Linked DNA regions of Homo sapiens: region 2 is linked to region 1. The links come from fine-mapping of genetic effects on gene expression. Tissue or cell type: monocytes. Region 1 holds a variant in brackets; the other region holds the start of a gene. All regions are shown on one strand. Distances are from middle to middle.

Evidence for each region. PIP is the estimated chance that this variant, and not a neighbour inherited with it, causes the effect.
Region 2: it holds the start of LGALS3, and the variant in region 1 is fine-mapped to the expression of LGALS3 in monocytes (TOPMed, PIP 0.98).

What each region holds. Positions count from the first base shown.
Region 1 is chr14:55,212,925-55,218,998 of GRCh38, reverse strand. It overlaps LOC107984708 (a long non-coding RNA gene), which reads right to left. Exons shown (of 3, transcript XR_001750768.2): 3 at 2,053-2,518. Among named protein-coding and RNA genes, the nearest start is that of DLGAP5, 24 kb to the right of the region's middle. The variant G/CTG (reference allele first, on the strand shown) is at 3,718.
Region 2 is chr14:55,126,921-55,132,447 of GRCh38, reverse strand. LGALS3 (galectin 3) reads right to left here and starts at 3,196. Exons shown (of 6, transcript NM_002306.4): 1 at 3,148-3,196. RefSeq lists an enhancer at 2,361-2,550 and a silencer at 2,901-3,500.

The DNA of each region.
Region 1 (6,074 bases):
CACTAGGCCTATTTTGGGTCCTTTAAAAAAAAAAGTTGCTGGACATGGTGGCTCATGCCTATAATCCAAGCACTTCGGGAGGAGAACTGCTTGAGCCCAGGAGTTTGAGATCAGCCTGGGCATCAGGGTGAGACCCTAGCTCTAAACAAACAAACAAACAAACAAAACTTTAACAGAAAAAAAAAGCAATGAGGTAGAAGTTTCAGCATACCAAATAACTGGAGACCATTCAAAAGGTTTTGAGATCAGCCTGGGCATCAGGGTGAGACACTAGCTCTAAACAAACAAACAAACAAAACTTTAATAGAAAAGAAAAAGCAATGAGGTAGAAGTTTCAGCATACCAAATAACTGGAGACCATTCAAAAGGCTTGTGGGTTTTTTAAAAACTGTTTTAAAATTCATTCTTCAAAAATGTTCAGACATGACCACGTTGGTTTCATCACAGTGCTTATGAAGTTTCTTCATTTTTCATGTGTCCAAGCAGGCCTGAACACCCCCAACTCCCTCAACCATGACCTTTTACAGAAGCAGACATGGAGGGCTTTGATGCCAACTAATATATGCTTCAAAGTGGACAGAAAGAGATACTATGACCTTAAAAAAATAACCTCTTCTGAGGTTGAAATAAATTATAATGATGCCATCTGATCATAACTCAGTGACCTCATTTGAGGAAAGTTTGATGGGCAGATTCTTCTCTGTTCTTTATTAGCAACATCTGTCAAGAGGCTCGCACAGTTTGAGAATAGCTTCTCACACCTGGCTAATTTTTGTATTTTTTAGTAAAGATGGGGTTTCACCATGTTGGCCAGGCTGGTCTTGAACTCCTGACCTTAGATGATCCTCCCACCTCAGCCTCCCAAAGTGCTGGGATTACAGGCATAAGCCACTGCACCTGGCCCCATTTGTTATTTCTGTCTTTTTAACATTTTCTTTTTTTTTTTCCTGAAAGACAAAGGAAAATATTTAAATAGTTCATGTGAGGGGTATTTGAGGGGTATAAAGGGTTTCCAAAAACACAGGCACATTTCCTTCAGGATGCTAGTTATTCTGGGGAGGGGTGGAAAGGAATGGAATTGGAGAGGGTATGAAAGAACTTCAGTTGTATCTGCAACATTTTTTCTTTTAAAAAAAACGCTGAAGCAAATATTACAAAATGACAACATGTTAAAACTAGGTAGTGGCTGTATGAGTGCTCATTATATAATCCTCTCCTGTTTTTTCTCTACTTAGAACATTTAATAGAAAAAGAAATTCAGAAATAAATTACCAAAAAGACAAACAACAAAACTGAAAAGAATATTCAAAATACGTATGAGAAAAGAATCTATTTTCTTAATATATAAAGACAAATAAATGAGGAAAAGATAAATGACCCAACAGAAAAATCAACTAAGGATATGAATAAAAAATTTACATTAAAATAGTTAATGAAGTTATAAAATAGCCTAAATATGTATGTGTCGCTCCATGTATGTCTCCACGTGTATATATATATATGCACTCACTAAACAAATGCAAATCAAGAAAACAATACTGCTTTTCATTATCGTACTGGCAAACTTTTCTGAAGTTTATCAAACACAGTTTTACCAGCACTAGGAAACGTAGCCTCATGTTTCTGAAAAGAGTATAAATTGCTGTAATAATTCTGGAGGCCAAAAATTTTAAGTGCACATTCTCTTTGAGCACTTTCACTTTTAGGATTTTTTTTTCCTTTTATAGCTGCACAAGTGCACAAAGATATACGTATAAAGGTAATGTTTGTCAAAGTAAAAAATTGAGGAAAAACTAAATTTCTATCAAAGGAAGAGATTAAATTGATGATACATCTAATTTATAGAATTGTATGCAACTATAAAGAAAAAGTGGTAGATCTATATGTTGACAAAGGAAGATGCCCATAATACAACATAAGTTTAAAAGAGCAAGTGGTGGAACTATATATTTAATACAATCCTATTTGCATTAAAAGGCATACATTAGATACATGTTTGCAAACATATGTCTGTAAGAAACAGTGATTATCTCTAGGAGATGAAACCGGAGGTTGAGAATAGGAAAGAAATCTTTTATTTCCTCCTAGACTTTTATTACACCAGATCTTTATGCTGCAAATGACAGAAAACTGAAGCCGCCCTAAGAAATGAATGAATTTATTGGCTCAATTTCAATGAATTCTGTGAGTAGTTTCAGGTTCCTCTTGAATCAGAGCTGCCCAATGTCACTAGGATGCTTCTTCTGGGTGTTGAGTTCATCCTTTGCACATGTGAATGATTCTCTCTGGGGGTGTCTGACAGCCTTGGTTACCTTGATGGCTCCACTCAAGTTAGCTATATGGCGACTATTACCAAGCTTTACCACCTTGCAAAGCTCAAAGGCAAGAATGAATGCCTCTCTTTTCCAGAAGTCTTTATTTATTGGCTCTCAGGCATTCATCAGTTCTTACTGGATTATACGACCATTCTTGAATCAATCTTCATCAATGGTAGTGATTGATTTGTGGTCAATTTCACCTAAACCAAATAACAGAATGGAGTCTGGATGGTTTCCCAAAAGAAGGTGGGATGCTATGCAACAAACAACAGATATTCACTGTTGCTAGATAATGCTTTACCAAGTGCATCACACACACACACACACACACACACACACACACACACACACGTTACAGTCTTCTAGGGCCTAGATTCTGAGCTCCATAGGAAGGGACTGTGTCGGTATCATACATTATCCTGTCCTTTGGGCCTAAGTCAGTTCCTGGTACATGATCAGGAGAATACATGTATTAGCAGAAGAAAAACAAAACAACCTACCTTGCAACTTCACTTCTAAGCATTGGCTACAAATTACAAAAAAAATTAGTTATAGAAAAGTATCATCAAGACTATCATCTACAATATCTTCATCCAAAGTAAATAGAAGAGAGGCTGATGCAGTGAGAGAGTTTTTTTTTAAGGAGAAACACTGATGGCTCTTTCAAACATTTGCTTTTTGTTGATATAAATTATTCAATGCATCATGGAGATTCATTACTATGAACTACTGCAATAATGGTTGAACTCAGCAAATTCTTTTTTTTTTTTTTTTTTGAGATGAAGTTTCGCTGTTGTTGCCCAGGCTGGAGCGCAATGGCACAATCTCAGCTCACCGCAACCTCCGCCCCCCGAGTTCAAGCGATTCTTCTACCTCAGCCTCCCAAGTAGCTGGGATTACAGCCATGCGCCACCACACCCTGCTAATTTTGTATTTTAGTAGAGACAGGGTTTCTCCATGTTGGTCAGGCTGGTCTCGAACTCCTGACCTCAGGTGATCTGCCTGCCTCGGCCTCTCAAAGTGCTGGGATTACAGGCATGAGCCACCACACCTGGCCAGCAAATTCATTTACACAATTATTCAGATAGGAACTTAGGGTCAGGCTAATTTACTTAAAGATTTTTCTTCCTTCTCTTCCCTTTCCCTGAGCCTCCTCTGGGTACTCCTTACACTGGGCCACCATGAACTGCTTCTGCTTGTGCAACTTGCCATATAACTAGGGTCACCAGATAAAATACAGGATGCCCAGTAACATGTGAATTTCAGGTAAACAATGATTTGTTTTTTATTATAAGTATGTCTCAGATATTGCATGAGGATATGCTTATACTAGAAACTTGTTCTTTATCTGAAGTTAACATTCAACTCACAACCCTGAATATTTATTAACTGTAGTTCT[G/CTG]TATTTTTATTTGCTAAATCTGGCAACCTTACACATAATTCTAAGGGCCTATGACAATTTTTAGTTGGCTAAAGGGTAATACCACGGACTTTCCAGACTACAAAATACCTGACTGTTGGAATTTTACTTTTAGATCTGCCTCTTTTATACTTAAAGAGCAATTATAAAGTAAGACCCCGTGTAACCACCACTCAAGTTAAGAAATATGTATATTTTTATTTTATTTTATTTTTATTTTTTTTTTTTTGAGACAGAGTCTCACTCTGTCACCCAGGCTGGAGTGCAGTGGCATGATCTCGGCTCACTGCAACCTCCGCCTCCTCAGTTCAAGCGATTCTTCTGCCTCAGCCTCCCAAGTAGCTGGGACTACAGGCATGTACTACCATGCCCAGCTAATTTTTGTATATTTAGTAGAGACGGGGTTTCACCATATTGGCCAGGCTGTTCTCGAACTCCTGACCTTGTGATCCACCTGCCTTGGCCTCCCAAAGTACTGGGATTACAGGCATGAGCCACCGCGCCAGGCCAGAAATATAGCAATAGAAGGACTATGCGAGTACCTTAGAAGCCATCTGTGTTCCTCTCCTCGGATGGCATCATTCTCCTTCCCCTTAAGGGGTAACCACTATCCTGACTTTTATGATAATCATTCTGTCTGGTGTTTCTTTAGGCTTGCCACCTATATATGCATCCATAAACAATATAGTTCATTTTGACTATTTTTGAACTTTATACAAAAGTTTCTATGTAAGTGATCTTTGTGACTTGTTTCTTTCACCCAACACTGTGTTTATAAAACGTGTCCTTTTTTTTTGAGACGTGGTTTCACTCTGTTGCGCAGGCTGGAGTACTGCAGTATGATTACCGCTTACTGCAGCCTCAACCTCCCAGGCTCAAGTGATCCTACTATCTCAACCTGCAGAGTAGCTGGAACCACAGGCACATGCCACCACACCTGGCTAATTTTTTTTTTTTTTTTTAGAGACAGGGTCTCACTAGGTTGCCCAGGGTGGTCTTAAACTCCTGGGCTCAAGCAATCCTCCCACCTCAGCCACCCAAAGTGTTGGGATTACATGCATGGGCTACCGTGCCTGGCAGTTTATCCATGTCAATGCATGCAGCTGTGGTTCTTTAATTCTTCTTTTGTATAAAAATGTTCCAATATGTGATTGTGCCCATAATTTATTCATCCATTGTACTGTTATGCGCTGATGGTACAGTTTTAACTTAAACTGACAATTTTTTAATGTTTTAAATGTATAGAAATGAGCCCAAATAACTATATCATGTGTAAAATGGGAATAATAAAAGAAAAAATAAAATAATAAAATAACTATCATAAAATAGTTTCATACTATGCAGGAAAATTGCTAATATTTAGTACTCTCTAAAATCTGTTGTTATTGTTTTCATTAATAGGGAAAAATTTAAGATGGCTTATATAAAATGGTTCTCATTTATAGTCATTTAATTTTTTTTTTTTTTTTTTTTTTTTTTTTTGAGACAGAGTCTTGCTCTGTCGCCCAGGCTGGACTGCAATGGCATGATCTCGGCTCACTGCAACCTCTGCCTCCCGGGTTCAAGCGATCCTAGTGCCTCAGCCTACTGACTAGCTGGGATTACAGGCACGCGCCACCACGTCCGGCTAATTTTTGTATTTTTAGTGGAGACGGGGTTTCACCATGTTGGCCAGGCTGGTCTCAAACTCCTGACTCAAGTGATCCGCCCGCTTCGGCCTCCCAAAGTGCTGGGATTGCAGGAGTGAACCACTGTGCCCAGCCTAAATTTTTTTATTGTTGTGCAACATACAAATAATAAAATGAACAAATAAAAATACAGCTTTATGAATTTTTACATATACACCTATGTAATCACCACCCAGATAAAAATGTAGAACATTTCCAGCACCCTCTTAAGATGACTGTCTTACGACGCTTTATTTCCTGTTGCTACCTACTAGAAAGCTGACTGCCTACATTTTTGAACACATGTCTAATACTGGGCCGCATGATGTTGGTTTCTGGGCTTTTGGGTGCCACCATATGGTAAGCCTGCTGTACTGCAATTGATTTCCAAAATAAAAAGTAATAATACAGATTCTGATGTGGTTAACAATGAAAACAGAGGACCTAATATTTCTACTAAAAAAGAAAAAGACTTATCTTCCAAAAGGATAATTTAAGATCATGTACATAATGACATTACATGTTTACAGTTAAATTGATTCTATAATTTTCTACTTGTATATTTAGCATATAAAGAAAAAAATGATTGCAGCCTGGCATTGACATGAGAATACTGATAGAGGCAGGAGGCAGAGAACTCTCCTAGGCAGATAGGGGAGGGTCCCTGGAGAA
Region 2 (5,527 bases), 86 kb after region 1:
TTTCAGATGAGTAGTTTACAGAGAGAGACATACAATCAAATGTCACAAATCTTCCCACTCTACAGACACTATAGATATGTGAACCCCACCCTGGTGTTTCCAGGATCAGAGAATTTTGAACAGTCAGAGGGGAAAAAAAAAAAACTTCAAAAAATAAACTAAAAGTAGAGAAATACTAGCTGGGTCTCCACATTTGTAAACACCTACAGTAAGCAGTTCAGTGTAGCTTCAGAATAAGGAATTTAAACATGAGTTAGAATACAGACCATTTTAATCGGCTGTTAATTGGTAGCTTTTCCCTTTAACAAAGAGTAGCTATCCGCTGCACTATGCTATTCTAGGCCCACCCAGCAATCAGTCCAGTTGTCTGGGTTCCCAGGAACACTTCTGAAATGTCTGCTCATAAAGGTCCCTGACCTGTGCGCAACCGTCACAGAAGAAGACTACTTCCTGAGCCCCTAGGCACTGCCCTACACTGCTCCTCAAGTAACACAAGAGGCAGTCTACTTCCTGTCCTTGCTGAAACACAGAGCAGGACTTGAGGAAAGCCCATTTGCCAAAGACAAATTCAGTGATGCTAAGTTGGAATAAGGGGAACTGGTCCTTTCCTAGGATTTCTTTCTCATCATAGCTCCCTGGCATCAAGGAAGGTAGAGTTACTTTCTGCTTCTCATGACTGATCTTCCCCCCTACGGAAAAGCTGAACAGTTCAAAAGAGAACACATGACACTTGGTCAATAGCGAACTGGAAGTATACAGCAAGCACAGCCTAGACTGGTTCTTAAGTTACCCACTCAGAATTTAATGAGAAGATCCAGTTCAGGCACCAGACACAAGGAGCTACCCTTGAGTGGGAGCCTGTGTCCCAAACGATCACAGGAAAGAAGAGCTATGTTTGAGATCAGTTACCACAAGTATCAAGTACATAAGTTTACAAGCCACTTGGCATTTAAGGTCAACACGAGATTCTGAAGGCATACTACATGAACAAAGGTCTTGGCTGCAGTTAAGGTTTAGAGTCTGGCTAATGAGGGTTCTATGTAAAAAGGTACCTAAATTATACATGAGACCAGCATTAGCCTCTTGACCTCACTAAGTGAAAAGTCTTTGTAAAGCACCTATGCATATTTGTAGTACAGCGAACTATCATAGTTTAAAGACCGCTTAACAGAGCGAGACACCTATTCTACTTGGACACAGCTAGTTTTCGGGGTCAATCCATCAGGCGGTACTCGTCCTCTTCTGCTTCTTACGTAACTTAGTGAGGCATCCTCCTAGCACTTCTAAGTGCTAAATATTCAAGGACCATCATCAAACTTCTCCCCAGAATCTGGACTAAGTGCTGATTTTAAACATCACCTCTAAATATTATGAATTTAGGAAGTTGCTTAAGTCCCCCAAAGATCAAGGATGGGGTATGATCATCTTTAGAATGAGAGACCCTACCCTAAGGATTGAGAGTCAATGTCTAAAAGGGAGACTATTGTTGTAGAAAAGTAAATGATCATTATTCAACTTTACCTTTTATGGAAACACACAATTTCCTAGTATGAAATGTTTATAAACTTGAGGTAGGCCAGGCGCAGTGGCCCACGCCTATAATCCCAGCACTTTAGGAGGCCGAGGCAGGCGGGTCACCTGAGGTCGGGGGTTCGAGACCAGCCTGACCAACATGGAGGGACCCCCCCCCCCCCACCACCACCACCACGAAAAATACAAAATTAGCCGGGCATGGTGGCGCATGCCTGTAATCCCAGCTACTCGGGAGGCTGAGGCAGGAGAATCGCTTGAACCCGGTAGGCAGAGGTTGCGGTGAGCCGAGATAGTGCCGTTGCACTCCAGCCTGGGCAACAAGAGCGAAACTGCGTCTCAAAAAAAAAAAAAACCTTAGGTAAACAAATCAGAACTTTGGAAGCTGACGAAAGCTTTTTCTTCTCAGGCCCTGTGCCCAAGTAGTTAATTGTATCAGTCTCATTTTCTTCAGAATTAACTGAGCCTTCTCCCATTTCTTCCCCAGAATCCTAGAGACAGCCTGAGTCACTGAGGTCCAGGTGTCCTCATTGCGCAGCAACCCAATTCCCAGAGTCACTTTACAAACATTCCGCAGTCTCTGGAACCCGCATGGCGAACTTGAAGGGTAAGGCTGAAACCTAAGTCCCAGCCTCCACCATGCGTCCCCGACTCCCTGGACCTGAACGCCTACTGCTCAGAGGGCAATCGTTTTAGTGTTTCTATTTGAGCACCCGATAATTCAGAATAAACTCTCAAACATGTTGTGAAAGCCCCCCGGTAGGGCTCTGCACGCTAGGACCAACATTTTGCCACACCCACCATTTCCTGGGCACAGACAGTCTGGGCAGGGAGGGGCATTTGATTCGGAAAAGCTTAGAGTTTGCAGTCTTTGCAAAGCCGGGTCATGCCCACTCAGGCCATGGGGCAAGCACCATTTTCTGTGGGATCAGCAACCAGACAGCGGCTGCAGCCCGGCCGCAGCTGGTCCCGGTGGAAGAACTCATTCGCGCTCCACAGCGAGATCTCCTCCAAGTCCAGCCTCAGCTGATGCTCAAAAGGGGCCGGGCCAGCCAAGCTGTGGGTCCCGGGAGGCGCCCTATGCAGTCCTGGGAAGTCCCTTCGCTCCCCCGCGGCCGTGATCTGGGGAAGGGTGACGGGGCTCCAACCCCAATTAGAGAAACTGGAGCGGCCGTCTGGTTTGCTGAGCGAGCCCCTCCGCCTCCCCTCGCAGCGGGACCTGGTGGGACTGGGGTGACCAGACTGCGGCTCGTCACCGGATGGGGCTTACTCTGGGGCCGCAGAGCGCAGGCGGCGGAGGTGCGACGGCGGCGAAGCCCACGAGGCTCCGCAGAAGGTGGCCCGTGCCGCCCCGGGGACGTGTGTGGGTCTCGTAAGGTGCTGCCAACCTTCCCCGAACGCCAGCGCCCTCGATAATCAAAGGCGACTGCCCCGGGCCCAGATCGCTGCCCGCCGCCCCGCTCCTGGAGGGCAGAGCACAGGCTGTGGGGCTCTCCGCGCGCGCCCCGGCCCGGTCCCGGGGAGCCGAACCCTCTCCGGACCGCGCCCCAAGCAGCGCCCGGGCGCCCTCTCCCCTGCCCGGCCGGAGCCGCGTCCCCCGCGCCCCGCGCAGCTCACCGCTCGTTGGCTGGCTCCGGACGGCTGCTGGCGAGGAGGTGCTGCGGGCGCCGGCGGGGCGGTGGCTCCGAGCCTCAAATACTCCCAGCCCCGCCCGGCCCGCCTCTCCCGAGGCGGGGCGGCGCCCCTGCCCAGCCAGTCCTCTCCCCGGACCAGGCTGGGCGAGCCCCGCGCCGGCCAGACACCCCGAGCCGCCGCCGCAGGGGCGACCAGGAAGCTCCCGACGGGGAGAGCGCGGGCACTGAGGGGCGCGACCTCCGCTGCCACCGTTAGGTTCCGTGGCGCTCCCGGGACCTGGGCTGCGGCCGCGTCTGTCCCCCGCCCTCTCCAGAATCACCTGAGTGAAGAATTCGCTGAGAGGAATTCAATTAATAGGTTGCTTTATTTGTAGAATACAAAACCAAAAATCTTTTCAATGTCTATTCCCTAGGGAACTGACTACAAATTGACTACTTATTCTAGATCAATAGGCCTAGTCTCAAAGCAATTCCCTTATAAAGCAATTAATCAGACAACTCTTTAACACATTTTACACAGGAAATTCACATTATATATATATATACCCTCCTTTTAACTTCACCTTATCTTTTTGTTGGAAGAAAGAGATAAGTATTATTATCTCATTTTTACTGTCAGGGTGCTATAGTCTGAATGTTTATATCCCGCCAAAGTTCATATGTTGAAATCCTAACCCTCACGGTGATGTATTAGGAAGTGGAGGCCTTGGGAAGTGATTAGGTCATAGGGGCAGGGTCCTTATGAATGAGATTGGTGCCCTAATAAAAGAGGCCGGAGAGAGACCCCTTGCCACTTCCACCTTGTGAAGACACAGCCAGAAGGCTCCCTCTGTGAACCAGAAAGCAGGCCCTCACCAGACATCAAATCTGCTGGCCTGGATCTTGGATTTCCCGACCTTCAGAACTGTGGGAAATAAATGTATATTGCCTATAAGCTACCCAGTTTATGATATTTTGTTACAGAAGCCCAAACAGACTAAAAGAGAAAATGATTTACTTATCCAAGCTCACTCATGTCTAGGAACAAAATCCAGAAATCCTGGCTCTTACACTTTACCTGGAAAAGCACCAGGCCAAAGAATCCTTGCAGGTTGGAACAAGGATCTCTGAGGAAAAAAAAAAAAATTAAGGGGGGTAGGGGAAGAATCTTTGCAGGGACTGGCTTATGTAAACTATGGAGAAAACCAGGTATCATCTGGTTCCTAAATAATTCCTGTAGCCCTTATAGTAACCAATTAATAACATAAAGATAAATTATTTCCTGCAGTTTTTCAACTTAGGGAAATGTTCCTGTGAAGGACTCACTTGATGGAATTGAGAAGCTGTCTTGGCATTCTCTAGGATAAACTTGAAAGTGTCTTAGTGGTTGGCACGGTTCCTGCAACATCGTCCCCTCTAGGCTTGCACATAGAAGTCACAGTGTGGCTGGGGATTATTTATGCAAGTTTGAACTCTTATCTGAAGAGGTAGCCTGGCAACCAATTTATTTGAATGGATCACCCATAGTAAATGACTAACCTCTGGGTAGTAAAAAGGTATCACCCAAAGGAATGCCCTTGGTCTCCAGGGAAAATGCTATAAATCTTAAGACTTTGAGTCATGAGGCCTCATGGCCAGGAGTGGTACCCTTAGAGGGTTAGCCATTGGTAATAAGAAAAGTAGATAGCCAAATGAATTGCTGTGGAGGCAAGGGATGAATCACACTCTTGCCTTTTCTTCTGGTCATTTCAGAGATAGACAAAGTTCATGCCCTGGCTACTTAGGGGGCTTGCTTACACCTGATTGTATGATCAGACATGCTTTTGGCTTCCCTTCCTTACTTGTACATCCCCATGAATACTTTGGTGCCAACTTCATGCCCCATAAAGCTAACAAAAGGATCCTGCTATGATCAGGGTGTGCCTGGGAATTTATAATTTGTACACATGCAATAAACGGCTCTTTATTACCCAATCCAAAGTCACATCCCTTTTCTAAGATAAGCGTAAAAAGGAACCCAATAAAATCAATTAAGATATCATTGAGTAACTTCTATGTACAGCTCACTGTGTTATTTGAAATAGGGACAAGGCAAGTGTTAGCCCTCAAACAAAAAGGCTGTCTGGTTTCTACGGATGCAGAGATTGTAAGCCGCTGATAAAAGCAAGGATTCTAAGAGAGGCATCTCCACAGGAGGGAAAGGAGGAAACTTGGGAAAGCAGGTGGCTGTCCAGAAGGTCAGGAGGGAAGCTGCGTGAGAACTTCAGTTAGAGCCAGAAGAGAGTAGGAGATGAAGATGAGAACAAAAAGGGAAAGTCTTTAAGGATAAGCAGAAAAGAGAAAGAAAGACAGTAATTGGAGAAGAAAGCAGAGCCGATTATTTA